6 linked regions of the Homo sapiens genome follow. The protein of the gene in region 2 interacts with the protein of the main gene of each other region in a pairwise test. Each region holds a gene or a part of one and is shown on either strand. Other genes may lie near its edges.

The links.
Region 1: the proteins of SAXO4 (region 2) and RIMBP3C interact in a two-hybrid assay, tested with the Homo sapiens proteins (one large-scale study listed by BioGRID).
Region 3: the proteins of SAXO4 (region 2) and KRTAP6-3 interact in a two-hybrid assay, tested with the Homo sapiens proteins (one large-scale study listed by BioGRID).
Region 4: the proteins of SAXO4 (region 2) and ALS2CL interact in binary tests that used the Homo sapiens proteins (3 or more experiments, as listed by UniProt).
Region 5: the proteins of SAXO4 (region 2) and SLAIN1 interact in binary tests that used the Homo sapiens proteins (3 or more experiments, as listed by UniProt).
Region 6: the proteins of SAXO4 (region 2) and RFX6 interact in binary tests that used the Homo sapiens proteins (3 or more experiments, as listed by UniProt).

Annotation. Positions count from the first base shown.
Region 1 is NC_000022.11:21,548,208-21,553,571, forward strand, and holds the start of RIMBP3C (RIMS-binding protein 3C), read right to left. Parts: upstream 3,255-5,364; 5' UTR 2,770-3,254; coding exon 1-2,769. Other genes in the region: UBE2L3 (ubiquitin-conjugating enzyme E2 L3), read left to right, coding at 1,243-1,443.
Region 2 is NC_000011.10:61,486,900-61,491,798, forward strand, and holds the end of SAXO4 (stabilizer of axonemal microtubules 4), read left to right. Parts: intron 1-48; coding exon 49-162; intron 163-246; coding exon 247-341; intron 342-2,882; coding exon 2,883-3,047; intron 3,048-3,601; coding exon 3,602-3,671; 3' UTR 3,672-3,685; intron 3,686-3,914; 3' UTR 3,915-4,029; downstream 4,030-4,899.
Region 3 is NC_000021.9:30,590,719-30,594,515, reverse strand, and holds KRTAP6-3 (keratin-associated protein 6-3), read right to left. Parts: upstream 2,077-3,797; 5' UTR 2,050-2,076; coding exon 1,738-2,049; 3' UTR 1,461-1,737; downstream 1-1,460.
Region 4 is NC_000003.12:46,686,165-46,691,063, forward strand, and holds part of ALS2CL (ALS2 C-terminal-like protein), read right to left. Parts: intron 3,302-4,899; 5' UTR 3,277-3,301; coding exon 3,174-3,276; intron 2,133-3,173; coding exon 1,934-2,132; intron 1,521-1,933; coding exon 1,455-1,520; intron 985-1,454; coding exon 819-984; intron 276-818; coding exon 144-275; intron 1-143. UniProt on the Homo sapiens protein: Acts as a guanine nucleotide exchange factor (GEF) for Rab5 GTPase. Regulates the ALS2-mediated endosome dynamics.
Region 5 is NC_000013.11:77,759,503-77,764,401, reverse strand, and holds the end of SLAIN1 (SLAIN motif-containing protein 1), read right to left. Parts: intron 3,575-4,899; coding exon 3,292-3,574; intron 1,258-3,291; coding exon 1,182-1,257; 3' UTR 173-1,181; downstream 1-172. UniProt on the Homo sapiens protein: Microtubule plus-end tracking protein that might be involved in the regulation of cytoplasmic microtubule dynamics, microtubule organization and microtubule elongation.
Region 6 is NC_000006.12:116,918,011-116,922,909, forward strand, and holds part of RFX6 (DNA-binding protein RFX6), read left to right. Parts: intron 1-26; coding exon 27-76; intron 77-1,126; coding exon 1,127-1,286; intron 1,287-2,299; coding exon 2,300-2,444; intron 2,445-4,031; coding exon 4,032-4,141; intron 4,142-4,899. UniProt on the Homo sapiens protein: Transcription factor required to direct islet cell differentiation during endocrine pancreas development. Specifically required for the differentiation of 4 of the 5 islet cell types and for the production of insulin.

The sequences.
Region 1 (5,364 bases), on a different chromosome or scaffold from region 2:
ATCCTGCCCCGCTGGGAGTTGACTGGGGCCAAGATCAGGGGATTTGGCAGGCAGGCAGCCTGGGATGTAGCTGTCCGGAATCTGCTCCACGAAGTTGGAGGGCACCAGCCCCCGCCGGCCATCGTCAAGCTCCCCCTCATAGAAGCCATCCTCATCCATGTCCCCGAAGATATATATGTAGTCCCCAGCTGTGAGGGGCAGCTCACCCTCAGGGTGATCATTGGGCCCCTCAAATGGGTTGTAGTTATACTGAGCCATGAAGATCTTGAGCTTGGGGGCAGCAGGAGCCGCCGAGCCCCCCATTTCCAGGGCCAGGGACACGCTGTCAGGCTCCAGGTCATCCACCTCACTGGCTGTGTCCCTGTCCAGAGTAGGGGAGGACGGCACGGTGGCCCACATCGACCCCTCAGAGGAGGAGTTTGACTGGGAGCTGGTTTTCTTGGACAGAGGTTGGCTGGCAGGGACTGTCTCTGAAACTTGGGGGACACTGGCTGACTCCCCAAGGGCAACTGGGCTCTCCTCGAGGGAGGCTTCCCTTTTCTCCTGTATGTCTCTGTTGGGCTGTGACACTGCGTAGTCTTCAGGCCGTGCGTGGAACTTGGGCCTTCTGCTACCTTTAACTTGGGACTCCGGCATTTGACTGGTCTCCCAGGGCTGTTCAGGAGGGTGACCAGGCCGACACTGGAGCGCCTGTATCTCCTTCCAGGAAGGATGGAGGTCACACAGGGCCTTCTGCGGGTCGCGTTGCAGCTGCTGCTGCCTGTCCTGCCCGCGCGCCGCCTGCTGCAGCAGCTGTTCGGCGATCAAGCCGGAGGCATCGCGCTCTTGACACGCGCGGCCCAGGTGGCCGCGCACTTCGCTATTCTCAGCCTCCACCTTCCGCACCCAGTCGGTCTTGGCCTGCAGCCGCCCATTCTCCTCCGCCAGCCAGGCGTTTTTGAGCAGCGCCGCCTGCAGCTGTGTCTCGGCCTCCTCGCCACGTCGCCGCGCCGGGGCCGCCTGCGTGCCCAGCTCCTGGCACTCGCGCCGCCGCTGGTCCAGCTCGCGCTCCAGCGCCAGCATCTGCCGTCGCACCTCCTCGCAGGTTGCGCTCTGGCCGCCCGCCTCGGGCCAAGCGCCACCGTTGCCCTGCTGAAGCATCAACTGCCTCTGCAGGCGCAGCACTTCCCGCTGGGACTCGCGCTGCAGGCGGTCTAAGTCTCTGACGTTGAGCCACTGGGTGCAGGGGCCGCCCCTTCCAGTATGCAGGTCGCTGCAGGGACCCGAGGCGACACGCGCCTGCAGGAGGTGGCACTCCTGCCGCAGCTCTTCGATCTGCTTGTCCTTGGCCAGCGGCGCGCTCGCCTGCTCCGACAGGTCCCGAGCGCGCTGGCGGGCAAAGACTTGGCACAGCTCCAGGCCGGCGCAACTCTCGCCGGGTATAGGCGCGCTCACGGCCCGGAGGTTGGTCTCCTGCAGCTCGCGGGCGCGGTCAGCTAGGCGCCGCGCGAGCCCGGTCAGCTCCGCGCGCTTTACCTTGAGCCGCTTCACCTTCTCGTCTGCCTGGTAGGGGCAGCCTGCACGCCGCAGCTGCTTGTTCTCCTCTTGCAGGGTATAACAGCGGCGCGCCAGCACCCACAACGCCTTGGCCAGCAGCCAGTTCAGCTTTATCAGCTCGTGGTGGCCCAGGCCCGGGGGTGAGGGAGTCAGGACTTCGCAGGGCTGGCTCTCAGAGCCTTCTCCTCCCCGCGGGTTGCTGAGTTTCCTGTGGGCTGACGGTGGTGGTGGCGGCGGGAGTGGCGATGGTGGCGGCGAGAGCCTCCGGGAGCCAGGGGTGGAGGTGTCTGGTGAGGAGGGCCGCTCCTCGGATTTGGAGGCCTTGGGGAGGCTCCGGGTGCTGTCAAGCGAGCGGGAACACGCAGGTGCGAAGCAATCAAGGGAGCTGGCGTGCGTGGAGAGCAGGCCGTCTGGGGAGCTGGAGCACGCAGAGGACACCAGGCCTAGCGAGCGGGAGCGCACACCGACTTCAGCACTCAGGCTGTCTAGAGATCCGAGTTGGCAGGCGGGTTTGGGGGCGTGGCAAGAGCCGCTGGAGGTCTGGGGCAGCGGTTCTTCCAAGGAATGCACAGCTTGGGGGTCCGGTGATCCCGACAAAGCCGGGTGCCCGCGGAAGTGCGCCAGGATGTACTTGAGGAAGAGCTGGCGCTCCACCTCCAGCGCCGCCTGCAGATAGCGGATGCGCGCCGCCTGCTCGCCGTCAGTCTGCCAGCGAAGCTGCGCCAACACTTCCTGCAGGCGACAGCGGCACTGCGCCGCGGAAACCTCGGACGCCCCCGGGCGGCTACAGTGGCCGCGGTTCACCAGCTCCTCGGCCAGCTGGCGCTGCAGCTCCCGGGCTTGGCGCACCACGCCATCGCGCTCCCGGTGCAGCAGCTGCTGCAGCTGCCGCTGCTCGGCCTCCTTCCAGCGCAGCAGCTGCCGGATCTCGGCCTCGCGTTCCCGCTGCATCTCCTCTTGCAGCTGCCGCAACTCCCGGCTGCGCTGTGCCTCCCACTTGGAGCGCAGACGGTCAGCCAGCTGCCGCCGCTCCCGCTCGGCCTCCTCACGCAGCTGGCGCTCCCGGGCAGCGAAGCGCCGCCGTTCCGCCCGCCAGCCTGCCCGCTCCGCCTCCAGCTCCGCCCGTAGCTTCTCCAGCTCCCGCCTCTGGTTCTCCAGCACTGCCGCCGCCGGGCTGGAGCAGCCCGGCTTCTTGGGCGACGCGCCCAAGGGGCTGGGCGAGTCCTTGGCCATTGCGGCCGCGGCCCGGCTGGTCTCCAGACTTCGCCTGGCAGGCCTCAGCTCGCCAACGGCCGCCGCCGACCGCCCGGCGCGCCCCTTCCGGCGCCCCCTGGGGGTCTCCGCGTGCCCCTTCCGCCTCTTGGCATGTTCCCCCGCCTCCTGCCGCGGATGTCTGGCCCAGGCGCCTCTCCACCTGGCAAGGCCAGGGCTGGACTCCCACACCCCTGCTCAAACTGGCCCATGTCCCTTCCAGGATGCACGGGGGCTTTTCCGGTCCCTACACTTTTCCTGCTTCTAGCACCAAGTCCCTTGTGACCCTCCCCAGGCACCCTCCCAGGCACTGTGCAGTCCCAAGCAGGCCGCGGTGCCCCGAGGGAAGTCTGGGCTGCTGCTCCTGTACTTGGAGAAAGGGGCAGGGTGTGTGTGTTAAGGCCACCCATGGGGTGTGGGCATACCTGGTCGTGGGTTCAGGTGGTGTATTTGGGTCAGGTGGCTGGAAAATGCAGCAGGATAGGCCTCAACTTGGCTAGACCTGGACTCCCCAGGACCCTTCAGCCCCCTAACAGCCCTGATCACCCAACTGGTCATCCACCTTTTGAGGAAAGGATGTGCCTGATACACATTTGTGTTACTGCGCAGAGTCGGCTCAGAGGAGGTGTAAGCGAAAAGACCCTCCCCAGCAAGGTGGCATAGGGACCCAGGGCCAGATAGGCATGGGGGCACTGCCCAAACTGGCCATCTGGCCTGTCTACCTCCCACATCCAGGTACCACCTGGTGACAAACACTGGAGCCCCAGTGTCTGGGCTACTCATTGGCATCTTAGGTAGAGGCCTCAGGATGGGCCAGGAGTGAGGGTGAGGCTTCAGCAGAAATGTTGGAGGCATCCTGAGCTGCAGAAGAAACACACACACACACACACACACAGCTGCAGAAGAAACATACACACACACACATACTGAGCTGAAGGAATACACACATACACTGAGCTGCAGAAGAAACATACATACACACACTGAACTGAAGAAATACACACACACACACACACACACACACACACACACACACACACACACACTGCCTCTCTGACTGGTGGCCACCTGTGTGGCTTGGGAGCTAAGAAGCCCTGCTTCAGTCTGGCTCCTCTTTGCCCTTCCTGTCTGCTCCTGGTGCCAAGTGGCTTTTTGGAGACATGGATGGACACCTGATACCTGGCAGTCTGCATCGAGACATTGATTTTGTTTTTTGAGATGGGGCCTCACTCTGTCGCCAGGCTGGAGTGCAGTGGCGCAATCTTGGCTCATTGCAACCTCTACCTTCCACGTTCAAGAGATTCTCCTGCCTCAGCCTCCCAAGTAGCTGGGATTACAGGCTTGAGCCACCATGCCCAGCTAATTTTTTGTACTTTTTAGTAGAGACAGGGTTTCAGTATGTTGGCCAGGATGGTCTTGAACTTCTGACCTCAAGTGATCCACCCGCCTCGGCCTCTTAAAGTGCTGCGATTACAGGCATGAGCCACTGTGCCCGACAAGACCTTGATATTGAAGTCACATCAGAGGCCCCTTTGCTTCTTGGTCTGTCGTGTCTCCCTGTCCCCAGGAAGCACCTGGGACCTCTCACAACTGCTGTGTTCACTCAGCTTATGGCCCTCCTTTACAACACTCAAGTTTTTCAAATCAGTTTCCCCGGAACCCACAGAACATGCCTTTAGGCAGTGTCAAGTAACAAGAACATCGGGAATTATGGCTCCAGATGTTCTTTTTTTTTTTTTTTTTTTTTGAGATGGAGTCTCGCTCTGTCGCCCAGGCTGGAATGCAGTGGCGCAATCTCTGCTCACTGCAAGCTCCGCCTCCTGAGTTCACGCCATTCTCCTGCCTCAGCCTCTCAAGTAGCTGGGACTACAGGTGCCCGCCACCACGCCTGGCTAATTTTTTTTGTATTTTCAGTAGAGATGGGGTTTCACCATGTTAACCAGGATGGTCTTGATCTCCTGACCCTGTTGATCTGCCCGCCTCGGCCTCACAAAGTGCTGGGATTACAGGCGTGAGCCACCGCGCATGGCCCTTTATTTTATTTTATTTTATTTTATTTTATTTTATTTTATTTTTGAGACAGAGTTTTGCTCTGTCACCAGGCTGGCATGCAGTGGCACGATTTCGGCTCACTGCAACCTCCGACTCCCTCGTTCAAGTGATTCTCCTGCCTCAGCCTCCTGAGTAGCTGGGATTACAGGCATGCGCCACCACGCCCAGCTAATTTTTGTATTTTTAATAGAGACAGGGTTTCATCATGTTGGCCAGGATGATTTCGATCTCCTGACCTTGTGATCCGCCCACTTTGGCCTCCCAAAATGGTGGGATTACAGGCGTGAGCCACCGTGCCCAGCCCAGATGTTCTTTATGAGAGGTGAGGCAGATGTAGTGTGTATGTGAGAGGAAGGGGAGGTGAGATGCAGGGATGGCCTTAGCCTTGAACTGGTGCTGGGCTCCTGGACATGGTAGCCACAGGGAGGACTATCTTGAGAGAATCTTCATCACAGCCCTGTTTTACGGAAGAGAACCTGAGGCTCAGTGAGAGCCACTGGCTTGCCAGGGCACATGGGCAACTGA
Region 2 (4,899 bases):
TCAGGCTGGCCACCTCAGCCTCCCTTCTGGTGGTTCTGTGCCCTGCAGGTGCCCCCTCCCTGCCCAGAACCCAGCAGCGTGAGTCACCAGCAGTTTCAGCCACTTCATCGGATGCAACAGACAAACGTTGCCCTGCTTGGCCGGGAGACTGTGGGGAAAAAGGTGAGACTTGCTACACCTAGCCTCCACCCCCAAATCCCCACCCCTTCTGACTTGACAATTCCCCTGTCTACCCCTCTTGTGCAGGAGCCCACAGGGTTCAGCCTTAACAACCCCATGTATGTCCGGAGCCCCTGTGATCCTGACAGGGATCAGCGATACCTGACCACCTACAACCAAGGGTGAGGTCCGCTTCCTGGTCCAAAGCTGAAACCCATTTGAGAAACAGACTGAGACTGGGATAAGTAATGAGCTCACAGCCTCGTGGAGAAGATCAATGCTGAGTGAATATGGGTTCCCCAGAAGCATACCCTAAGCCAAGGATTGGAGTGCAAGCATGTTATCAGGCAGTTATTAGGCGTGTGGGAGTGGAGAAGAGGGATGAGGGAGGGAAGGCAGCAATAATGAGCATGTTACTAGGCCAGCTATCCCACTGGGAAAACTCTAGAAAACAGTGTAAAGCACACAACTCAGAACTACCCCAGTCAAAGGTGAGAGAGCTGGGGTATTTATACCCCCACATCCATCGGTCATTGGTTAAAGGCTATCCCCAGGGCAACATTAAAGCCCAGGTGCCTCCTTGCTCAGGCAAAGCAGCTTCTAGCATCCCAAGGGTAGCTTTCCCACAGAGATGCAGGGCATTGGTGGCCAGGCTGGTGGGCATGGAAAGAACAGGGCAGTGCGAGGGAGTCTGGAGCAGCAGCATCTGCTAAGACATTCCATCCAGCCAATGGTTGGTGGGCTCGATGCTCCCTCAGAAGGTAAATTCTGTGCTGTGCATTCCCTGGGTTAGGAGTGACTGTCCTGGGCATCAGGGAGGGCTTCCAGGAAGGAGGTGGCCCCAGAGCCATGGGGAAGCCTCCTGGGGCCAGGACTGGGTGGGGAAAGCATTATAGGAGTGGTATAAAGGAAGTGTAATTCTTCTTCTTCTTTTTTTTTTTTTTTTGAGATGGAGTTTCACTCTGTCGCCCAGGCTGGAGTGCAATGGCGTGATCTCAGCTCACCGCAACCTTCGCCTCATGGGTTCAAGTGATCCTCCTGTCTCACCCTCCTAAATAGCTGGGATTACAGGCATGTGCCACCATGCCCAGCTAATTTTTGTATTTTTAGTAGAGATGGGGTTTCGCCATGTTGGCCCGGCTGGTCTTGAACTCCTGACCTCAAGTGATCTGCCTGCTTTGGCCTCCCAAAGTGCTGGGATAACAGGCATGAGCCACCGTGTCCTGCCAAGAAGTACAATTCCTTTTTTTTTTTTTTTTTTTTTAAGATGGAGTCTCTCTCTGTCGTCCAGGCTGGAGTGCAGTGGTGCGATCTCGGCTCACTGCAAACCCCGCCTCCCGGGTTCACGCCATTCTCCTGCCTCAGCCTCCCGAGTAGCTGGGACTACAGGCGCCTGCCACCACGCCCGGCTACATTTTTGTATTTTTAGTAGAGACAGGGTTTCACTGTGTTAGCCAGGATGGTCTTGATCTCCTGACCTCGTGATCTGCCCGCCTCCAGGAAGTATAATTCTTAGGACAAACTCCGAGCCAGGAAGCGCAAGCTTTCCTCACAACATCAGTCACCTGTGTCCACCCTGCTTCCTCTCCAACTCCTGGTCCTTCAAGGTGTCCCTGCCACCTCTCTGTCTCCTCCCCCTGCCCCACCCCCTGCTCCGGGATACCTCCCAGAATCCATTCATGGAATAGACTTTAACTGAGCCCTGACTGGGTGCCAAGCCCTGCTCCAGGCCCTGGGAATGTGTGTGCAGCTCCTGCCCTACGGAGCTCAGACCTCTGCATGGGAGGAGACATGCATGTGGCTGCAGCCAGTTAGCGAGAGCTGTTAGGTAATGCGCAAAGAGAAAGGGATCGCGAGGGCTGCAGTGCGCACGGGTCGGATTTGAAATCGGTGGCCTTGAGCAGGTGACGTTTGAACTGAGACTGAAAAGAGGGGAGGGCGGTGTCCTGGAGGAGCAACAGAGAGTCTGAGCTGGAAGGGCCGTTTGTTGTCCTCTGGCCTAAACCCTGAGGCTCAGAGGGGAGGAGCAGAGCTTCCGCCCGCACAGCAGACTCAGCACAGTGGCCGCTCCAGTTCCCACGGAGGTGGGGGAGGGGCAACGATGTTCTGACCCCTTCTTAGGCAAACACCTCCTCCTGTGGCTCTGGCAGAGACCAGCTCCAGTCCTGTCTGCTGGGTCCTTCCAGCCTGTCGTGTCCTGTTGTGTCCTGAGCTCCTGCTGGCTGTCAGGCACGCTTGCTGGTGCTTCCTGGTGCGCGCAGAGCCCCGGGATTGTCATCACTGATTCCTGCATTGATCTGTCTGCACCCCCTCTTCATAAGTTCAAGGGTGGGACCCCCTTCTTACTTGTCTTTGCACCCTCTGGACCTGGCTGTGCTCAGTGAAATGGAAGGAAATGGAAATGAAATGGAAGGAAAGTTAAGTGCCTAGAGAAGTGGATGAGACGGGGTCCCCACCCCAAGGTACTGGCAGGCCAGGGACAGGGGCATCACTGAAACTGTCCTTTAACACTCCAAAGAGTGTTTCAGCGTCAGGTGGAGGGGAGGGCAGGCTTTTTGAGTAAGAGTTCCCCCAGTGGACGTGGGCTTAGGGAGAGCTAGACGAGGACAGCATGAGCAAAGGTGGGGAGGCTGGGCGATCTGAGGGTCGATGGAGAAGGGCAGCAGGGGTTGCAGAGGTGGGCAGAGTCCAGCTTCCAGCCAAGGACCCCTCCTCTCCTCCAGGTACTTTGAGAACATCCCCAAGGGTCTAGACCAGGAAGGCTGGACTCGAGGTGGCATCCAGCCCCAGATGCCAGGAGGCTACGCCCTCAGCCAGCCGGTCAGCTGCATGGAGGCCACCCCCAACCCCATGGAGAGCCTGCGGCACCTGCATCCCCACGTGGGAAGGTGGCACCACCCCCAGCTCTGTTCTTTCTCCCTACCCCTCATCCAGGCCGTGTGCCAGGCCTTTCCCTTCCTCTCCTCTCTTGCTGTCAGTCCGGTTCATTCCTATGAGAGGCCCATCTCCTCTGGCTGGCTCTGGTGTCCCTTCTCCTGCTAGCACAGGCTCCTCCCCTCCTCTCCTTCCAGTGACCCCTCCCTCAGATGGCTCCTCCTCCCTCTCCTGCCCCTGTTCCCCAGGCCCGGTGGACTGGATGGGGAGGATCTGAGCAAGGGGCTCTGGGGTGGTTCAGATCCAGAGGGGGATGCGGGGACGGATCCAGAGATGAATGGACTGTGGTTCGGCCTCACTCAGCTCCTTTCTGCTCAATTCAATTCCTCAGAAATTACATTTATATCAACAATGGCCCAGAGTTGGCAGGCAAAGAATGTTTGTGGCTTGGCTGCCCTGGCTGAACCCTGGCTATGCTCTCTCAGGGAGGGTCAGGCAGAAGACAAGAAGACAAGGTCCATGCCCTGCCTGCCAACACCCCCAACACTCTCCTCTTGCCTCCCTGCAGAACCCTGACCTCAGCTGACCCCTTCTACCAGAACACACCTCACAGCAGCCGCTGCGTGGCACACAGCTGAGCCCTGAGCCCTTGGTAAGGGGCTGGGGATCCCCACACTCAGCTGCTCTGGTTGTGTGGGCAACCGTTATGGGCCAGCCCTGCCTCTCAAGCCCTGGGTTAAGCAAGTCCTGCCTGGGGACCCCCCTTCCAAGTGGGGGGTGACAGATCAGGGGGCCTCTCAGAACCCCTTCTCTGCCAGGCAAGCACACAGAACCACCCCAGAGCCCCTTGCTCAGGCCTCGCCTCTGCTTCTCCTCTACAGGTTTGTCAATCCTAGGGGACAGGAGCCAGGCTACTGTCTGTACCCCCACTCCATCCCCCAGGGGAACACCCCTGCCCAGCTACTTTCCTAATGAAATAAAGAGCATTGAAGCAGAGAAGTGTGACATCACTATCAGGGTGGCTGGAAAAAGGAGGGGTGAGCTGGGGCGGTGGGTGCAGGGGTGGAGGAGCTAGGGCCAGATTTGGAGTCGGAAGGGCTCGGCTGGAACCTCTGAGGAACCATGACACGATGGATAGGCACTTCATTCTCCACGCTCAGTTTCTTGTCCTGTAAAGGGGTCCTCTATGGCCTGTGCTGCTTGGGAAAGTGCTTGGTCAAGTGTGGGTGGAAGAACCCCAGGGGAGGGGCAGGTGGTCCAGAGAAGGGGAGGGAAGCAGACGCAGGGCAAGGGGACAGAGGAGAGTCTTGGATGCATGGCCACCTGGACACCAACACGGGGGTGGGGGGCGCTTGATCACAAAGGCTGGTGCCAGTCTCCGTCCCAGCCAAGGTGACCAGAGCAGGTCACCTGTTTGTGAGAAAGAGAACAAGCTGCCCCTTAGGCGGATGTCCCAGGTGGGCGCAGGCCCTGATGAGCCAACATCCTGTGTGGGAAGAGAAGGGCGTCTCTTCCTCCAGATGTTGCAGCCTGACACAGGCCCCCAGCCTGCAAGACAGCATCTGGGCCAGCTCTCAGCACCTTTTGTCACCTCAGCCAGGTGCATTTGTGCAGTGCACAACACTACAACTGTATGCTGTGGCCCTGCTAGCACCAACTCCTTATAAATGAGAAGTGTGAACCCAGGAGGGTGCGTGAGCTGCTCGGGGTCACACAGGGCAGAAAGGCAGGAGCAGCGCTGGGTTGGGGATATCCCCCGTGCCTTGCCGCCCTGTCTGGGCATGCAGAGGGGGTGTCCTCCGAACCCTTGCCTCCACTTGTGTTCCTTAGTGGGGGTCTGTGGAGCAGCACTGCTGGCCCCAGAGC
Region 3 (3,797 bases), on a different chromosome or scaffold from region 2:
ATGCATAGACCAATGTAATAGGATAGACAACACAGAAATAAAGCCACACACCTACAACCATCTAAACTTCGACAAAGTTGATAATGACCAAGCAATGGGGAAAGGACTTCCTATTCAATAAATGGTGATGGGATAACTGACTAACCACATGCAGAAAATTTAAATTGGTGACCTACATTCCTCCATATACAAAAATTAACTCAAGATGGGTTAAAGATCTAAATGTGAGACCTAAAACTATAAAAATCCTAGAAGAAAACCTAGGAAATATGATTCTGGACATAGGCTTTGGCAAATAATTTTTGGCTAAGTTCTCAAAAGCAATTGCAACAAAAACAGAAGTGGACCTAATTAAACTAAAGTGCTTCTGCACAGCAAAAGAAACTGTCTACAGAGTAAACATATAGCTACAGAATGGGAGGAATTATTTACAAACTCTGCATCCAACAAAAGTCTAATATCCAGAATCCATAGGGATCCTAAGCAAATCAACAAGCAAAAACCAAATAACCCCTTTAAACATGGGCAAAAGGCATGAGCAGGCACTTCTCAAAAGACTATAAAATCAGCCAACAAATATATTTTTATATATTTGTTATATACAACAAATACATATATAAATTATATATGTGTTACATATATATTTGTCATATATTTGTTATATATAACAAATATATATGTTAATGCATAACATTAGTGACCAGTCAAAATAGTTACTATTAAAAAAGTCAAAAACTAAAACGTGTTGGTGAGGTTGTGGAGAAAAGAGAATGCTTATACACTGGTGATGAGAATATTAAATTATTCCAGTCACTCTGGAAAGCATCTGGAGATTTCTCAAAGAACTTAAAGCAGAACTACCATTTGACCCAGCAATCCCATTACTGGGTATATACCCAAAGAAAAAAAAATTGTTCTACCAAAAAGAAACATGCACTTGTCTGTTCATCGCTGTGCTATTCACAAGAGCAAAGACATGGAATCAACCCAGATGTCTAACAATAGTTGACAAAAGATAATGTGTTTCATGTGCACCATGGAATACTATGTAGCCACAACAAAGAGTGGAAATCATATTCTTTGCAGCACCATGGATGCAGCTGGAGGTGATTATCCTAAGCACATTAATGCAGGAACAGAAAATCAAATACCACAGGTTTTCACTTATAAGTAGGAGCTAAAAATTGAGTGCACATGTATATAAACATGAAAGCAATAGACACTGGGACTCTTGGAGTGGGGATGGTGGGGGGTGGTAAGGGTTGAAAAACTACCTTTCACATATTACCTCAGTGGCATGCAATTCACCCATGTAACAAATATACACATATAACCCTTGAACCTAAAATAAGAGTTGAAAAAAATAACGATAAAAGCAAAAAATCAAAGAAAAAAATTTTGGACAATAAATAAGATACAAACACCAAGATTTCTCTTGTGGATTAAATGTGTTTATTAGGTCAGCAGAGAAACAAACTACAGCATGAAAGTCATCAAAGGAGTCACTGTGACACCATCATCCTGATAAAAGGAGAAGTGACAGGTGAACTTCACCTTATCCCACTTCATGATGGAAACTCAGGGTATTTTTGGGTTAGATGGTAGATCAACAACAGATCATATTAGACTTCCACTGCAGGATATCATCAATCAAGGGAAAGGCTCAGAGCATGTGGGCTTCAGAATTGGTGAATTGCAATGTCACAGGATAGAGGGTGAGAGTCTCCCATGGTGTCCTCAATAGTAGTAGCCAAAGCTGGAGCCATAGCCAGAGCCGCACCTATAGCCACAGCCACAGAAGGAGTGGGAGACATAGCCATAGCCACAGCCATAGCCACAGTCCAGGCCTCTGTAGCCACAGCCACAGAAGGAGCCATAGCCACAGCCCAGGCCTCCATAGCCACAGTCCAGGCCTCCATAGCCAAAGCCCAGGCCTCCGTAGCCACAGCACCCATAGCCACAGCCGCCATAACCACAGCCCAGGCCTCCGTAGCCACAGCACCCATAGCCATGGCCACCATTGTAGTTTCTGTAGTAGCTGCCACACATGGTGTTGGTTGTTGAGGTCATCCTTGGGTAGGAAGGAGTGTAGGTGACTTCAGTATGGACACTTCTCCGCAGAGGGCCTTTTATATGCCTCAGTGAATCAGAACATAGCGTGCCCCTGCAAAAATATCTCTAAAGGCCTTTCATTGTGCTGAGAAGTTCTGGCCCTTACGTATCTCTCTGATTTCATATCCTGCTACTCTCCTCCATTTATCTATAATGCTCAAACTCTGCTGGCTTTTTGTCTTTTAAAATGCAGCAGGTTTCTTCTCACAATAAGGCCCTGGCCTCTGCACTTACTGATTTCTCTTTCTTAAAATAATACCAGGAATATTTGACTCATTTTCTATTTCAATTGAAATGTTCACTTCCCAGAGAGACTTTTAATGGCCACCTTATATTAATTAGTCTACCTCCAGTAACTGAACTTAATGTAACTCACTGAGTTTTATTATTCTCACAGGATTCTTCACTGTTAGAATCTATTTCATTCATTTTTAAAATCAGTCTCTCTATCCCTTCTGTCTCATTGTAACCTGCAGAAAGTAGAGACTTTGTCTATTTTGTTCATCTGCTCAATCTGCATTTCTTATAACGGTGCCTGATACAGCAGATTCTTAATAAAGATTTGATGAATTAGTGAAAAAATAACCAAATGAATGACATGATGCAACTTTCTATACTCAAATTCTGTGTAGAATAATCACAATCTTTGTTCTATGCTTGGGGTAACTGGGGATAAATTCATGTACTCTGGGATCCTTTTGGATCATATGCAAACCAGTGGAGGAATTTATCATGGTGATTTTTTTCTGGTTTGAGAATCCATGCCTTTTCCGATTGTTAAGGTGGTGGTATATATCCACTAAAGTTTATGAACTACTGTGTGCAGTTCCGAAATTCTGACTAAATGTTCTACTTGCCTCTTATTGATATGATACTTTGCCAGTCTCACATTGATCTACAAAGTATGATCCCTAGGTTGATCATTGGTAGTTCTGCTACATTTAAGAGTAGCAAATGAATTAATATGTACTATTATTTGTTTATATTTTATTCTAATTGCTTTATCATAATAAATGACTAATAATTCATTAATAATATTTAATAAGTGGATGGAATAAACGTGACAAATTATCACAGGGAGCTTCATAGAAAGTCAGCTCTCATAATTAAGGCTATCACCAGAATGCATTTGGGCCAGAAATGTGGTTTGCTGATGTTATTCTATCCAAGTCACCACTTTAAAAAATAGTAACAGGAATTCTGCTAGAAGATGAAAAGTATTTTTACAATACTTTTGGAAATTTGGAATTAATATATTTTAAAATAAGCAAATTCATTAAATATAAAAAGAAGGTAAAATATGTGAATATTATGTGTCAGGAGAGGAAAACATGAATTTTGAGATACGGTGGGTAATTGTTTCTAATTGCTTTCTCAGATGCAAAGAGAACACCACAACTAATAATATAACCAAAGTGAGGATGATGGAAGAGAAAAAACTTTACTACTCCAAGAACATAAGCTACATATGAACTTGGAAGAAAATTTTTAGTCCCATTGATTAAGAAATAAATTAGTCAAAACATACAGGCATATTTGCAAGTAAATAAAGACATTTTCATCGGCTTCCTCACTGCATAGCCAACCTTCCCTAACCATTCCTGGCCACTCTGTGGTTTAAGGACTGCATTTATGGAGGTAGAGGAGGATATTGAAAAAGAAAAAAGAAATGTTTCAAGAGGCAG
Region 4 (4,899 bases), on a different chromosome or scaffold from region 2:
CAGCCACCTGCTTCAGCCATCACTCCCCCTTCCATATAGGGAAACTGAGGCCCAGAGAATACAGCAAGCAGCTCAAGCCCCCCAACATCTCCATGCCCAATGTGGAACCCCCTCCCTAACTGCCCCTCAGGCCCCCAACTCACCCTCAGCCGGCCTCTCAGGGTGTGCCAGAGAGCCTGTGTGGCCACAGCCTGGTCCAACTCCTGCTTCATGAAGGACTGCAGGTTCCCAAAGAGGGTGACTGCGTTCACCACCAGCTCCCGGGTTGGGTGATGCTGAAGGGGGACAGGGCAGCCAGTGAGAGGAGAGCTTACTGGAATCTTCCCTAGCCCAGTCCTGGTCCCGGCTGGTGGGGAGGCCTGAATCTAGGCCAGACCTTGCCCTTCTCTCCCTGACAGCTCCTCTTCTGCTGGTGGGGCAGGGGGTGGAATATGAAGGTGCTTCCCCAGCTTGGCCCTGGGCCCACGTGTCCTCATTCCCAGGACGTGATTCTACCCCTGCTCTCTGGGTCTCTGCTGGCTCTACCAGGGCAGGGCCACGTGCCTCAGACACCGCAGGGAAGGGCAGTGCTTTCACCCACTAAGATTCCCTAGGACAGAACCATGTCTTCGGACCCCCTCCTCAGGGCTGGGCCACGTCCCCCATGTCCCCTGAAAACCACAGGACAGGCCTGTGACTTCCTCAACCCTCTCCCACCTGCCGGCATGGCTGAGTCCTTCTTGTACTAGGGTTCCTGAGTATAGGCTGAGCCCCCTGAGTCTGGGCCCTATCCCTCCCTTCCCTCGGCTTCCCCACATGCTGCTGCCCCTGGTACCCACCTCCCCAATGGTGTCCCCGAGGCTCAGCAGGAGGAGCACGTACTGTTGCACGTGATGGGCGAGTGGCTGGTGGAGGGCCTGGCCCAGCGATGCGCCCACCGAGCCCTCTGAGCTCACACCTGAAAGCAGCTGCCGCAGCGCCTTCCGCTGGCCCCGCCAGTACTCGCTGCGTGTAGAGAGGGCCACGCACCACCTTCACCCCTTCCTCCATTCCTGCACCCACACCGCCACCTCCCTGCCCCAGCTAATCCCCTCAGATCCCAGGGCCAGCCCCAGGCCCAAAACCTCTACCCTATCAGATCAACACAGTACCTGAGTTGCCCTCACAGGTTTAAGAGCAATATCTCAGAGTATGAAGGGATTGCTGATCACAACCATCCACCCTGAAGGGATTCCCCTCCTTCCCCGCCCCAAGGCCAGCCCAGCTAGAGCGGGTCTGGATTCTGTTCCTGGCCTCACTGGGCCTTCCCTGTTTCTCTTCCAGTGTGGATCAGTGCAGATTTGTAGAGCCAGGAGTCCTCCAGGATGAGTTGTGGGCTGTGACACCTGCTGCTCTGGGGAGGGGGCTTCCCCGACCCCACCCTCACTCAGGCACTCCCACCCTGTCAGGGGCCAGTGCACCAGCCCTGTGCTCACCTTCTCCTCTTTGCTGCCTTCTGGAAGGCCTGCACCACCATGCAGCTTGTGTAGGACTCAATGTACCTGCAGGCAGCACAGGGGACACCCTGCAAACCCAGTCCTCAGCCCCAGACCTAAGCCCCTGGTCCCTGGGATCCCCAGATCCCACCCACTAGTCAGCTGCAGCCCTGAGGGCCCACACAGTGGCCTGGCTCTGGGCACTGGAGACCTCAACTCCTGGGCCAACAAGACAATTCTAACATACAGTCTGTCTTCCCTGAGAGGCCCCAAGCCTCAGGTCTGGAGTGTCTGAGCCTGCTGTCAGGCGAATACCCAAGCCCAGGTGAGGCTGAACCCAGGTGAGCACCAACCATGGACTGAGCCCAAACCTTTGCTTGAACCCTGACCCATGTGAGCCCCAACCCCAGGTGAACCTTAATGCCAGGTGTCACTCTGACACCAGGGATGAGCCCCAGCCCCACCTCCAGTGGTCTTACTCTATGTGGGCCTGCAGTACACGGTCAGCACCTCGCAGCAGCAGCAGGGACTCCAGACCGGTGGAGTCCGGGTAACGCAGCCTCTCCTGCAGTGAGTGCAGGCTTTCCTCCGTCACCTCCCAGAGTTGCTGGGAGCTCTTGTGCAGCTGTTGCAAGAGCCGCAGGCACTCTCTGCCCCAGGGATCCGAGGGATCTGGGGCTGGGGAAGGAGTACAGTCACACTGTGAGTAGAGGACGTGGGCTCCATCTCCCAGGGAACATGCACAGGCCCCAGGTGTTCACATGAGAGCCACCAGCACCGGCCAGCCCTGGAGCTGCAGCAGGGTCTGCATCCCTGGGATCCGCAGGACAGAATTGGTGAACCCTAGAGCTGAGCAGGGGAAGGGCAGGCTGGAGCAGTGGGCAGTATCCTCGAGGAGGAAACAGGAGACACACCCACTCCTCACTAAACAGGGACAACCCTGACAGCCTCAGGGAACTAAGTACATACACGAATTCCCCCCTGGCTCTGGGCCTCCTCATCCTGGACTACTCAGATCCAGAATGTGAAGTCCACAGGGTCACACAGTCCTCTGCCATTTCACAGATGCACAGAGGCACCTGTCCAAGGCCTCACAGGTGAGAATTAAACTGGAAGTAAAACCTAGGCATCCTGTTCCAGTCAGTCTTGTTCCCCTCCCGGCACCATCAGGTGCCCTAGGTGGGAGCAAGATGAAAATTCAAGCAAAGGGCAGTTTCCAGTTTTTTACCCTGGGAAAGGAGGAATTCCATCTCTTTGTACAGCCTGGTCTGGGCTACAGGTAGGTTCATGGCCTGGCCCCTCAGCGTTCCTTTAAAAAAGGAGCAGTCAGACTTGGCGCAGTGGCTCATGCCTATAATCCCAGCAATTTGAGAGGCTGAGGCGGGCAGATCATTTGAGGTCAAGACTTTGAGACCAGCCTGGCCAACATGGTAAAACCCGTCTCCACTAAAAATATGAAAATTAGCCAGGCGTGGTGGCAGGCACCTGTAATCCCAGCTACTCAGAAGGCTGAGGCACAAGAATCGCTTGAACCTGGGAGGCAGAGGTTGCAGTGAGCCAAGATCGCACCACCTGCATCAGAAGATGCTGATACCAGGTGTCACCACTCCTATTTGAGGTTGAGAAAGCTGTGGCTCAGCAAGTCCAACAAGGTAGGTCTCCTGTCCCTGGGATCATTCCTCGGTGCCCTTCCCTCCCCACTAGAAAGCCTAGACTCACCGGCTGGGAGCAGGGGCTGGAGGACAAGGCTGTTGACATGGGCGAGGGTGGCTGAGAAGACCTCCTCCAGCCGCAGCAGAGCTGCCTCCTCAGGGTTGCACATGGCCAGGTGCCGGACTCAGGGCCTCCTAGGTAGGGCACAGGTTACAGCTAGATAGCACAGACAGGAGCAAGGCCAGTGCCCATCCTCTCAGGCAGGGTGCCCAGAAGCAAGGTCCATGACCACCCACATCAGAACTGAGCAGTGAGCCCAGATCGCCTCAAAGGGGAGTTCCTGGACTGGCCACTGACCTCTGCCCTGCTCCCTGCCTAGGCCCAGCTGAGGGGTCCCTGAAGGAGAGAGAGAGCTCAGAGCTGCCAAGGGAAGCAACCCTTTCTTCCCCAAAGGGTAGATGTTCTTTAAGCCCAGTTTGGCCTGCTCATTCCTCTGCTCAAATATCCACCATGGATCCCAAGTGCCCAGGATAGTATTAGTAGTGCCCTGGTCTTAGCCTCCTTTCCATCAAGTCTCCCTTCAGGGATTCTGCAGTCTCTATAAACAGGGTCATACTGTCAGAGGATCCCAGCCCTGTCCTCTAGCCCATGGTTCGGGACTCCCTGTCACCCAACCAGGCTGTGTAAGCAAGGAGAGTTTTGGAGGTATGGGGGAGTCCGGAGGCCTCCTGCTAGAGCCACGAATGATGGGCAAGAAATGAAAAGGAAGACAGGACCCAGCAGGCAAGTGGAGGAACCCTGAGAGTAAAGGCTCATGGGTGTGAGGGCCCAGCCTCTGAGGGCAGCCCACCAAGCAGCACCCCAAAGGACCACAGCTTCACTGTGCCTCAGTCGGCCGTGGACAGCCATGGAGGACTTTAGAGCAAGGTAATGATGGGATCCAAAGTCACATTTGGGGAAATAAATGTATGACAGTTGTAGAGGAGATAGTGCCAGGCAGTGAGAGAGAGTTCAATGTGGATGGGAGCCTGGACCCTCCATGGTCCCCTAACCAGACAGAGGGATCACTGATCACAACCATCCACCCTGAAGGGGTGCCTGCTGGATGGGTGGGGGCCCTTGGGGTGGGCAGGTGGGCTTGAGCCTTGAGATTTCCTGCCCTGGAGTGAGGGACCTTCCAATCAGGCAGGAATCACCTGGGAATGCAGTGTCCTGCCTAAAGGGAGGGGTGAAGAGAGGCCTGGGCTCAAACCTACCCCCACAGCCAGGCTACAGGCTCTACTCCAACAAAGCCCTCCCCTACCAGACCCTGGTACCCTCACTTGGCAATGTTCATCTGCCCAAATGACCTGATCAGGTATCTGGGGCGGAGAGTTAGAGGGTCTTTTAGCCCAAGACCCGCAGACTGTCTCTCTCCTTGTCTCTGACACGCTGAGGCTTTGGAGTTAGCCAACCTGTGTGGGGCAGGGGACAAAATCAGGGCAGCCAACGATGGGCAGGTGACACAGGCAGACCCAAAAGGGTGAGTGGGAAGGGGTCTCAGCCCTCCCCTCTCCACCCTGCCCCGAGAGTGCCATGCGGGCATCCCAGGCCCCTGGCAGAGCCTACAACTCCCAGGGAATTGGCTCTGGAATGGAGTGGGGCGGGTCCCTCAGAGCTCTGGCCAAAGGCCCAGGCCAGGCATTCCTGCCCCACCTTTCCTGCTACTGCTGCTTCGAGAGGGTGAGGCTGCAGAGAGAGAGGCAGGAAGGGGAAGCCACCAGACACCCAGCTGCAGCTTCTGTGCTGCAGC
Region 5 (4,899 bases), on a different chromosome or scaffold from region 2:
GGAGTACTTGGGAAAAGAAGAATAATTTTACAAATGTGAATATTCTAAGTCTACCTGCTTGAGATATAAATGCCCTGCACAAGAACAGAGTAACAATAAGCATTTTCACAATTGTAGTGAAACACATGTGTAGTTACACTGTTTATGCTGTACATTCATGCATGACCTGATATTGCTGAAATAGAGTCTTTATTTCTGAACATTCCAAAACAGCAGTGTACACAGTAACAAATATTAAGTTATATGCCATAAGAAAGCATTCATTAGTGCAAATGGATTTTGTAAAAGGTCTATCAAAAAGATTTATTTGCTTTAAAATGCATTCATTTCCAGAAGCATTGTTAATAAAACATTACAGTTTCATCCTTCGTAATAAAGTATTGAAAATCAATTGTGGTACAGTAGCAAACATTGCAGGTATTAAGTGCAATGAGCTCATGATGCCGTTATAAATATGAAACCCATGTATGACAATAAATTAAAAATGAAAAAGACAGGACCATTTAATTCTGCTGTCTGGTTATCTCCTTGCAATGCTTCAAATTATGTTGTGCTCATTCAACACAAAATTATGTGTCTCAAATTGCATGATGTGTTTTTGCTGATATATCCCTAGAGCTAAAAAAATAGTACCTTACCACAAAAATATTTTTATGGCACAAAATTTAAGTTGTTCCATAGTGGTTCACATAGGTGTAAAAAGAAATAGGCACAAAAAATAAAATTCCTGTAAACTATAAAAAAGTAAATTTCAAAGCATACATTATAGAACCTAGTTGTCAATATGCAATGTATTAAAATACAGAACATGTAATGGAAAGATGTTTAGAACACGTGAGTAAATTGAACAAGTTACTTTAAAAAACTCATATGGCAAAGCATTATTGATACATCTTAATTCTCTCAAAAAGTATTCAGGTACAGAGCAGTTCTACAAAAACTTCCTAGATCTAAGTGTCACAATACTGCAACCATGGGTTTGAGAATGTTGCAGTATCTCAGGCAAATATTTAAGTGCAATAATTAGTCTCTGGTGACTGGTCCATTGAGAAACAATGCAGTAAATATATTAAAACACAAAAGGGAAAGAATATCCCAACATCCACTGCTACCCAGCCAGCTAGGTAACACAACCCTCATTTTTACTTCTTTCCCATTTTTCAAGGGTACATAAAACTGCATTAGTAGCAACCATCTCTCCAATTTCCATCCCTCAGAGTGCTGAGTGAAGACAGAGGCTTTGGAGGCTGAAGAAAACTAAAAAGAGACAAGAAAAACAGAGAGAGAGATTGTTAATAATCCTATGAGTCACATCACTCACTTTGACCTACTCTCCCATCTATGTTCTTCCACTGCAGTAATGAGAAGCCACTGGCACCATCTCAAGTGTACCTTGTGGTTCACACTTACGGGTCTTCACTGCATGCTTATCTCCCAGAGCCCCAGTTCATGGCAAAGTGTCATGCATGTTGTATTTGCACAAGAAAATTTGCAACATAAATAAAGGGGCCAATACCCTTAATGTATAAAACATATTTTAAAATAAGAAAAATATAGGATCCTGGCTAGAAAAATGACCTAAAAACATAAATGGTTACTCTGTTGAATACAAACAGCAAATGAATATGAAGACATTTTCAAAACCTTATTAGTAATTGAAGATTTGCCTATCATATTCGCAAAACATTTAAAAAGAATCTTTGGCTGAGTGCAGTGGCTCACATCTATAATCCCAACACTTTGGGAGGCCGAGGCAGGAGGAAAACTTGAGGCCAGGAATTCAAGACCAGCTTGGGCAACATAGCAAGACCTTGTCTCTACAATTTTTTTTTCAAATTATCTGGGAGTGGTGATATGCACTGTAGTCCTAGCAAGGCAGGAGGATCACTTGAGCCCAGGAGTTTGAGGTTACAACAAGCTACAACCATAACACTGCACTCCAGCCTGGGCAAAAGAGCAAGACCCTGTCTCTAAAAAGAATAGATAAAATAAAAAATTTAAATTTAAAACAATTAAAAAGAATAATACCTAGCATTTGCTTAAGTTTGGGGAAATAGACCATCTCACATTGTCTAGCAGTGACCTTTCCAAGAGTTTAGTTTGGAGACACATAGTCAAGGATAAATGTATGGTCTACAATAACCATATACATCAAATAATGTGATTCTAGTCAGCCATCAGCATGATGACACAGCTCTGCATTTACAAAGCAGAATAAGCCAAAACTTACTGAATAAATAAACATGTACCAAAATTATTTCTATCTGGCAGTAGGATTATGGGTCAGTCTTTACTTTTCTATTTTTCAATAGTTTCTGTTTTTCGAAATTTGTTGTTGATCTGAGCATCTATTACTTCTAAACAAACAAAACAAAATAAAACTATTTATATATCCATAAATGCATAAAGACAGAAAAAAATTGCTTGTTCCACCTCTTTCAAACTTTTTACTATGGTTTTCTCCTTCTCCTTCATATCCTAATTTCTTGAAAGAGCTGTCTGTATTTATTGTCTTTATTTCCTCATCTACCAATCTCTCCTCAAACCACTTTTATGGATTTTTAATATAAGATACTCCATGATATCCAGTTCAAGAAGGGAACATCATGACCAAGAGCTAGACTAAATGTCCTTTGAAGTACTCTGAAACTTTGAAGGGAAAAAAAAAAAATTACTACCTGGACCATACTGAACTTACCAACATAAGCTGATAAAGCCCCAGGTGAATGTCATTAAGATGCTTTTCAAACCATAAATGTGTGGGAGGAGGGTGTGCGTGTGCACATACGCCTGACACATTTTTCCATATTTTGATTAAAAATGACTGATTCAACAAATATTTGAGATCCTACCTGTATTGGGCATAGTTCTTGGCATCGGGGATACACAGCAATGAACCAAAAAGTCAACCTCCCCCCGCCCTACAATTTTTGGATAGAGCTGCCATCTGAGCAAAGACCTGAGGGAGGCACAGAGCAAGCCATGCAAATAACTTGGGAGCAGAAAGCTACAAAAGCTCTGGAGACAGAGCTTATCTGGTAAAAGCAAAAGCAAAGAGCGTCTTAGGAGTGATAGTGATGAGGGAGTAAGGGAAGAAAATGACATCAGAGAGAAGGGGACCTGACCCACACAGGGATATCCATCACTTTTCAAAGGGAGGAGAGCACAAGTCAGGCCATAAAGGGTAGTGTCTTACTAAGGTTAAAGTGAGCCAAAGGAAAAGTCAGCGTGTGTCTGGAGCAGTTTCTAGTTCCAAACTGCAAATGAAGTTACGCAAATACACATTCTTACCTTCTAACAGGTTGTGCAATTTTGCTTCGAGGCAGGTTACTCCCATTTATTGCCAACGAAGGTCTTGGGAGTGCACTGCGACCCATTATCCCAGAAGCTGCAGCTTTGTTCGGTGTGGGGATTCCTGTGTTGGAATACAGCTGTAAGCCGTTTGATAAAGGCATGTTACTGCTGCCTTGAACGGTTGGACTCACATAGGCTGTGGCTTTAAGAGGCTGTCGGATAGACACTGGGAAATGCCCCACGCTGTGGACCCTGTGTTGAAGCTGTCCCGGTGATGGAACTAGAAGAGAAAATGATATTCATGTGAGCAACCTTCTACCACTATCCGACTTAGGAAATGTGTGTTATTTTCAGAAGAGTCCATTATGCCTGAGAGTACAATATACACAGGAGGAGAAAAACAGAATATAGGTTCCAGACAGCACTGAGAAATGGAAAATTCTAATCCTTGACAAAGATCTCCTGGTCTGTCCATCAGCCACATTTTGGAGTGCCTGGCTATATGCAGAAGCCAGTTCTAAGCACAGCCTCCTTTCCTTTACAAATGTGATGATGTCTGAGTTCTCACAAGAGAAAGTCTTCCCCGTTTGCTTGCTAGACATTAGGATTTCTTGATGCTTGCTTTGGTGGTGGTTCCAAGAAAATAAAATGAGGAGATACTTTAATAGTTGTAATTACAGAAAAGAAGACAAGGTGGTATCTGTAGGTACAAACAGTTTATTACAGATATATTCCTTAAATAATATTCATTATGTCATTTATCTATCTGAGTTGCTGGGCATTATTACATTTATAATAGTAGCAAAACCTATAAAATGAAGGGCACTGGGAACTCTCTGGATAAGAACCCTTAAAAATTTCATCAATATACTGATCCAACTTTGTGTATCATTTCACATTAAAAGTAACAAACTGGTAGGCAGAAGTTTTTAAATTTTTTAATCCCTTTCTCCAAGGAAAACAATCAAATTTAATAGAAACTTATGCACAGAATTCTGCTTACATACTAACTACCCAAGCCTTTGATGCCTAGTACTGGCAACATGGTTAAACATGGACATACCCTGTTTTCTAAAACAGTTGAATTTACTTAATCATGAAATATATAAATACTTTTTTGAAATAAATATAAGGGGGAAAAAGACCCAAAAAAGTATCTATGGTTTTATTTATCATCTCTTGAAAATATTTCCTTAAAAATAGTTTTTCCTTAAATTTTTTTTCCTTAAAAAATGTGTTTAATTATACAAGGCAAAATCTATACACAGAAATACTGATACATGTGCTATCAAAAAGATAACACATCATGATCAAGCAGGTTTCATCCCAGGGATATAGAAATGGTTTAACATAGGCCAATCAGTAAATGTGGTACATCACATAAACAGAATTAAAAACCAAAACTATATGATCATCTCAACAGATACAAAAAAGCATTTGATAAAATCCAGCATCCCTTTATGATAAAAACCCTCAACAAAACAGGCATACAAGGGACTTACTTCAAAGTAATAAAAGCGATATATGACAAACCCATAGTCAACATCATATTGAACGAGGAAAAGTTGAAAGCATTCCCCCTGAGAAATGGAACAAAACGTCCTT
Region 6 (4,899 bases), on a different chromosome or scaffold from region 2:
TATTAACCTCTTTTGCTATGATTAAGGTTCTTACAGATGTACTCATTCCTGCAACAATGCAAGAAATGCCTGAAAGGTATGTTCAGTTAATAAAACATGAGCATTCCTAGTATAGGATTTAACTTTATACATTATATTAGAAGAAAACATTAGGTAGTAATTTATTCATTTATCAAGAAGACTATTTTCTACTTTTGTCCCTTTGTATTTGCTGGAAGAGATGTGTCTTATAGCTGGGCCTCAATAAACAAAATGGGTGAAACAATCCTTCAATCCCTTTAATTTGAGAGCGGCTAAAGTGAAAAATAGATTTAAGCACTGTTGATCTTCGAGAAATTTTTCAATGGAAACTAGCTGGAGTATGATAAAAAAGATAATTAATGGAAAATAACCACAAGAATAAAAACTATAGGAGAAATTATTGTATTTTATTATTAACTTTTGTCTTAATTACAAAATCAGAAAGTGGCATGATGAAATTACTGCCTTCTTTTAACAAAGGAATAAAATCTCAAATAGTTTATTGAAACAATACCAGAAGATTTTTCAAAAAAAAAAAACCTTTTCAATATAAGAACAATAGAATTCTGAAAAAAAAAAGCCAACTTTTTCTCTGAAAACAAAATCTAATGAAATGATAAAATTTATTTTAGTATTTTGGGGGTACAAATTCATATAGGACTGGACATAGTTGGTGCTCCAAAAATAGATGTTGCTTGGTAAAACAAATTTTACTTTTTATTTACCTTTTCCTCCAGATTATTTCATCTATATGATAGTTGGTATTAGCCTGATCAATAATGTCTTTTAATTATCAATTGTAGTCTTTAAATATCTATTCTGTACTCTGAATTGGGTACTTGAAGTGGAGTTTGAAGAGCTTGAGTGTTTTGACCAAGATGATAACAAAACATCTCATGTACCCCATAAATATATACACCTCCTATGCACCCACAAACATTTTAAAAATATAGCATAAGAAAAGATGATAAATGGCAGATCTAGGCTGTCTGACTTCAAAAGTACTGCTTATGAAACCATAGAATAATAGTATACCTCAATTAAAATATGATTGTTTAATGCATTTTTTAACAATGAAGCATTTAACACATAGCCTTCTTTGTAGCTTATTAGCAGACATAAGAAATTTTGCTAAAAATTGGGAACAGTGGGTTGTTTCATCCTTGGAAAACTTGCCAGAAGCTCTAACTGACAAGAAAATACCTATTGTGCGAAGATTTGTATCTTCTCTGAAACGACAAACATCTTTCTTACATCTTGCCCAGGTATGTTGGTTGCTAAGTCGAGAGCATTTGAGTCACCATATAAAAAATGAATCTTCTGAGAAGGACAGATTGAGGAACTTTCATAGATTGAAGGGAGCTAAGTAGACAACAACTAAATGCAACGTGAGACCCAGAAGTGAATGCTATGATAGAAAAAGCACATTAGTGGGAAAGCTGGTGAAATTTGAATTATGTCTGTAGTTAATAGTATTGTACCAATGTTAATTTCATAATTTGGGTAATATACAATAGTTACAGAAGATGATAAGAAGCTGGATGGAGAGTATATGGAAATATTCTGCACTATCTTTGCAACTTCTCTGTGATTGGAAATTTAAAAAACTTGAATGCAATTAAACATTTATTTGCCATGTGAATCTAATTGGTACAAATTAAGGTTGTGAGAAGTAAGCCTGTGTGATACTTAATATTGTGAAACCACAAACTCAACACATTTTAAACTGCCGACTAATCATGGCTCTTTTAAATAGAGCAAAAGTAATTCATAAGTTAAGAATGATGCATTTGTATATTGTTAAAATATATTTCTCTTTCCCCAAAATGATTATCTGCTTTATGAAGGTTTCTTGCCTTCTAAATTTTAAAAGACAAGCTTGAGATGATTTCAGATAGGAAATGTAACATTTAAAAATTCTTATTTTGTGATCATGGACAAAGAGAATCCATTTATATTTTCTTTTTCTATTTTTTATTATACTTTAAGTTTTAGGGTACATGTGCACATCGTGCAGGTTTGTTACATATGTATACATGTGCCCTGTTGGTGTGTTGCACCCATTAACTCATCATTTACATTAGGTGTATCTCCTATAATTTTCAGACTTTTAACAGAGATGATCATGAGTCTCAGCTACTGCTTTTGTCTTTAAAATAAGAAAAAAGTTATTTATGATACTTTTATCTCAAGGAACTATTTTTCTGATAGCTAAAAATTTCTTCTAGATACATTAGAAATGATATAGTGTAGTGTCTTCTTTACTTTCTCTATGCAGATTGCCAGACCAGCTCTCTTTGACCAGCATGTCGTTAATTCTATGGTGTCTGATATTGAAAGGGTTGATTTGAACAGCATTGGCTCTCAAGCCCTTCTTACCATTTCAGGCAGCACAGACACTGAATCTGGTATCTACACTGAACGTAAGTCCATTCTCTTTGTTTAGAACAAGGTTTTCTAAGCTCAGAAAATTGACATCTTGAGCTGGGTAACTCTGTTGGAGGAGCCTGTCCAGTGTGCTGTAGGATGTTTAGCAGCATCCTTGACCTTTACCCATTAGATGACAGTAGCAGCCTCCCCCAAGCTGAGACAACCAAAAATGTTTCCCCACATTGTCAAAGGTGTTCTGGGCTGAAAAATCACATCTGATTGAAAAAAAACCTGGTTTATAAAAATATTTTTAATTAAAAAAATTTATCTTCTAATAAAAAATAGTTATAATTACTCACCATGGAAAAGATAGAAAATATTGAGGAAAATAAAAGTCATCTGTAATTTCATTACCTAGAAATAAATGAAATGGAAATAATCTGAAAATAATCAAATTGTTTTGAGTTTTGTAAGTTTTCTTTCAGTTTTACATTACATGTATAGAAATTTACATGTGTTTTATAGTCTTGTCATCCTGTGGTGTGTGATAAATATCAAAATGGTATCTCAGCACAATACTGCTTTTCAAAGCAGACTCTCTACTCAGGTTTGGACCATCTGAGAGAGCTTACCAAGCCAATATGCATGGCTAGACAACTAGGCTTGAATTTCAAGGGATAACAGCCACTATTTTTTCCTCCCTCTGTCTTTGAAAAGACAAAACCTGCAGCCTCCTATACACTGGAGCACAAACTATGGACTGCTCTCTGGGGCCCAATCTCAACTCCACTTTTTATTTCCTAACATAAAATAGGATTACCTTTTGAGATTCAGTAAACCTTAAAACCTTTAATAAAAGGATAGTCTTAAACTGCCCTTTTAAATATTACATGATAAAACGTTATTCAGGTAAATGGCTCAATTCTGCTGAGAAGAAATTAACTTTTACTAAAGATAAAAGATATTTTGGAAAGCAGGAAATCACCAAGCTTAGGTTCATTCATTCACTTTTAACTAATCTGTTCCGTTTAATGAAAACACTAGACTCAAAATGAATATTTAACTACATAAACAACTTAATCTTCCCTAGTATGTGAATACACATATAAGATTTAAACCTATATTTCAATATATACCAAGATATATACACTTATTAAAATTTCGGGCACACTTCAAGAGGCTGAGGTGGGAAGATTGCTTGATCCCAGGAGTTCAAGGCCAGCCTGGGCAACACAGCAAGACCTTGCTCTATAATTTTTTTTTTTTTTTAATTTAGGCAGGCTTGTTGGTGCGTGCCTGGAGTCCCAACTGCTTGGGAGGCTGAGGCAGGAGGGTCACTTGAGCCCAGGAGTTTGAGGCTGCAGTAAGCCATGATCACGTCATTGCACTCCAGCCTGGGCAACAAAGCAAGATCCTGTCTCTCTCTCTCTCACACACACACCATTGAAGAGTACAGTACTAAGGATTTTTTTGTTACTGTTTTCAAGATATGATATTAATTCTTTTCACACATTTATCTGTCTTTCCCTTTCATGCTATCAAAGTATTGATGATTCCAAGTTTTAGGTTTTCTCTTGGATTCCAAGTAGAGTACAATATTCTGTTTTCTTTTCTTTCTTTTTTTTTTTTTTCCTGGGTAGATGACTCTATCACTGTGTTCCAAGAACTGAAGGATCTCCTTAAGAAGAATGCCACTGTGGAGGCTTTTATTGAATGGTTGGATACTGTGGTAGAACAGAGAGTTATTAAGGTACTTTTTAATGACAGATTCAGAAAATAAGTTCCTTGTAAAGAGTAAATGCTAAACTGGCTATAATTTTTTGTCTGGGGGGAGAGGGGTGGAAGGCTGTGTGTGTAAAGGCTTTGAAAAGCTTTTGATGCTCTACGAATAAGGCAGGCCAAATACTGAAATTAGGAATATGTCAAGATTTGAGAGCATTGGGCATGGATTCCATTATATTTCTCCTTTCTTGCCGAAAGACTACAAGATGCTCTGCCTTCCCTATCAGTCAATAACATTACAGCTGAGTAACATCAGTAGAGAAAGATAAACTTAGAAACTGGAATGATCTGGCCCGTTTCTAAAAAGCAAGATTTCATAAATGCTGATGGAAAACATGGTTCTAAGCATTTGCATTTCTGAATTCCAAAAGCTCAATATTTTGTGTTTTCTCTGTGGTTTCTTCACCTTCTTTGGTTAACCTAGTCACCCATTGTGAAACAAGCAATAAGAACAAATATATCCATCACTAGTTGGTGTTGGCCATTCCATATCAAGGAGACTAGTTATAGTTTGGAGACTTTTTTCCTTCTGTAAGGAAAATAGATTATCATTCAGTACCAAAGAAGTCAGAGTTAATCATTCACAAAAATATATAGCCCTTCCTTCACACCTCACCTTCTGTTCTTTTTAAAGCTCTGTCAAAGAAAAATTAAAAAATAAAAATATTTTGAAAATTATTTCATTTTGTTGTCTAATTCTATTAGGAAACAAAGCCATATTGAATA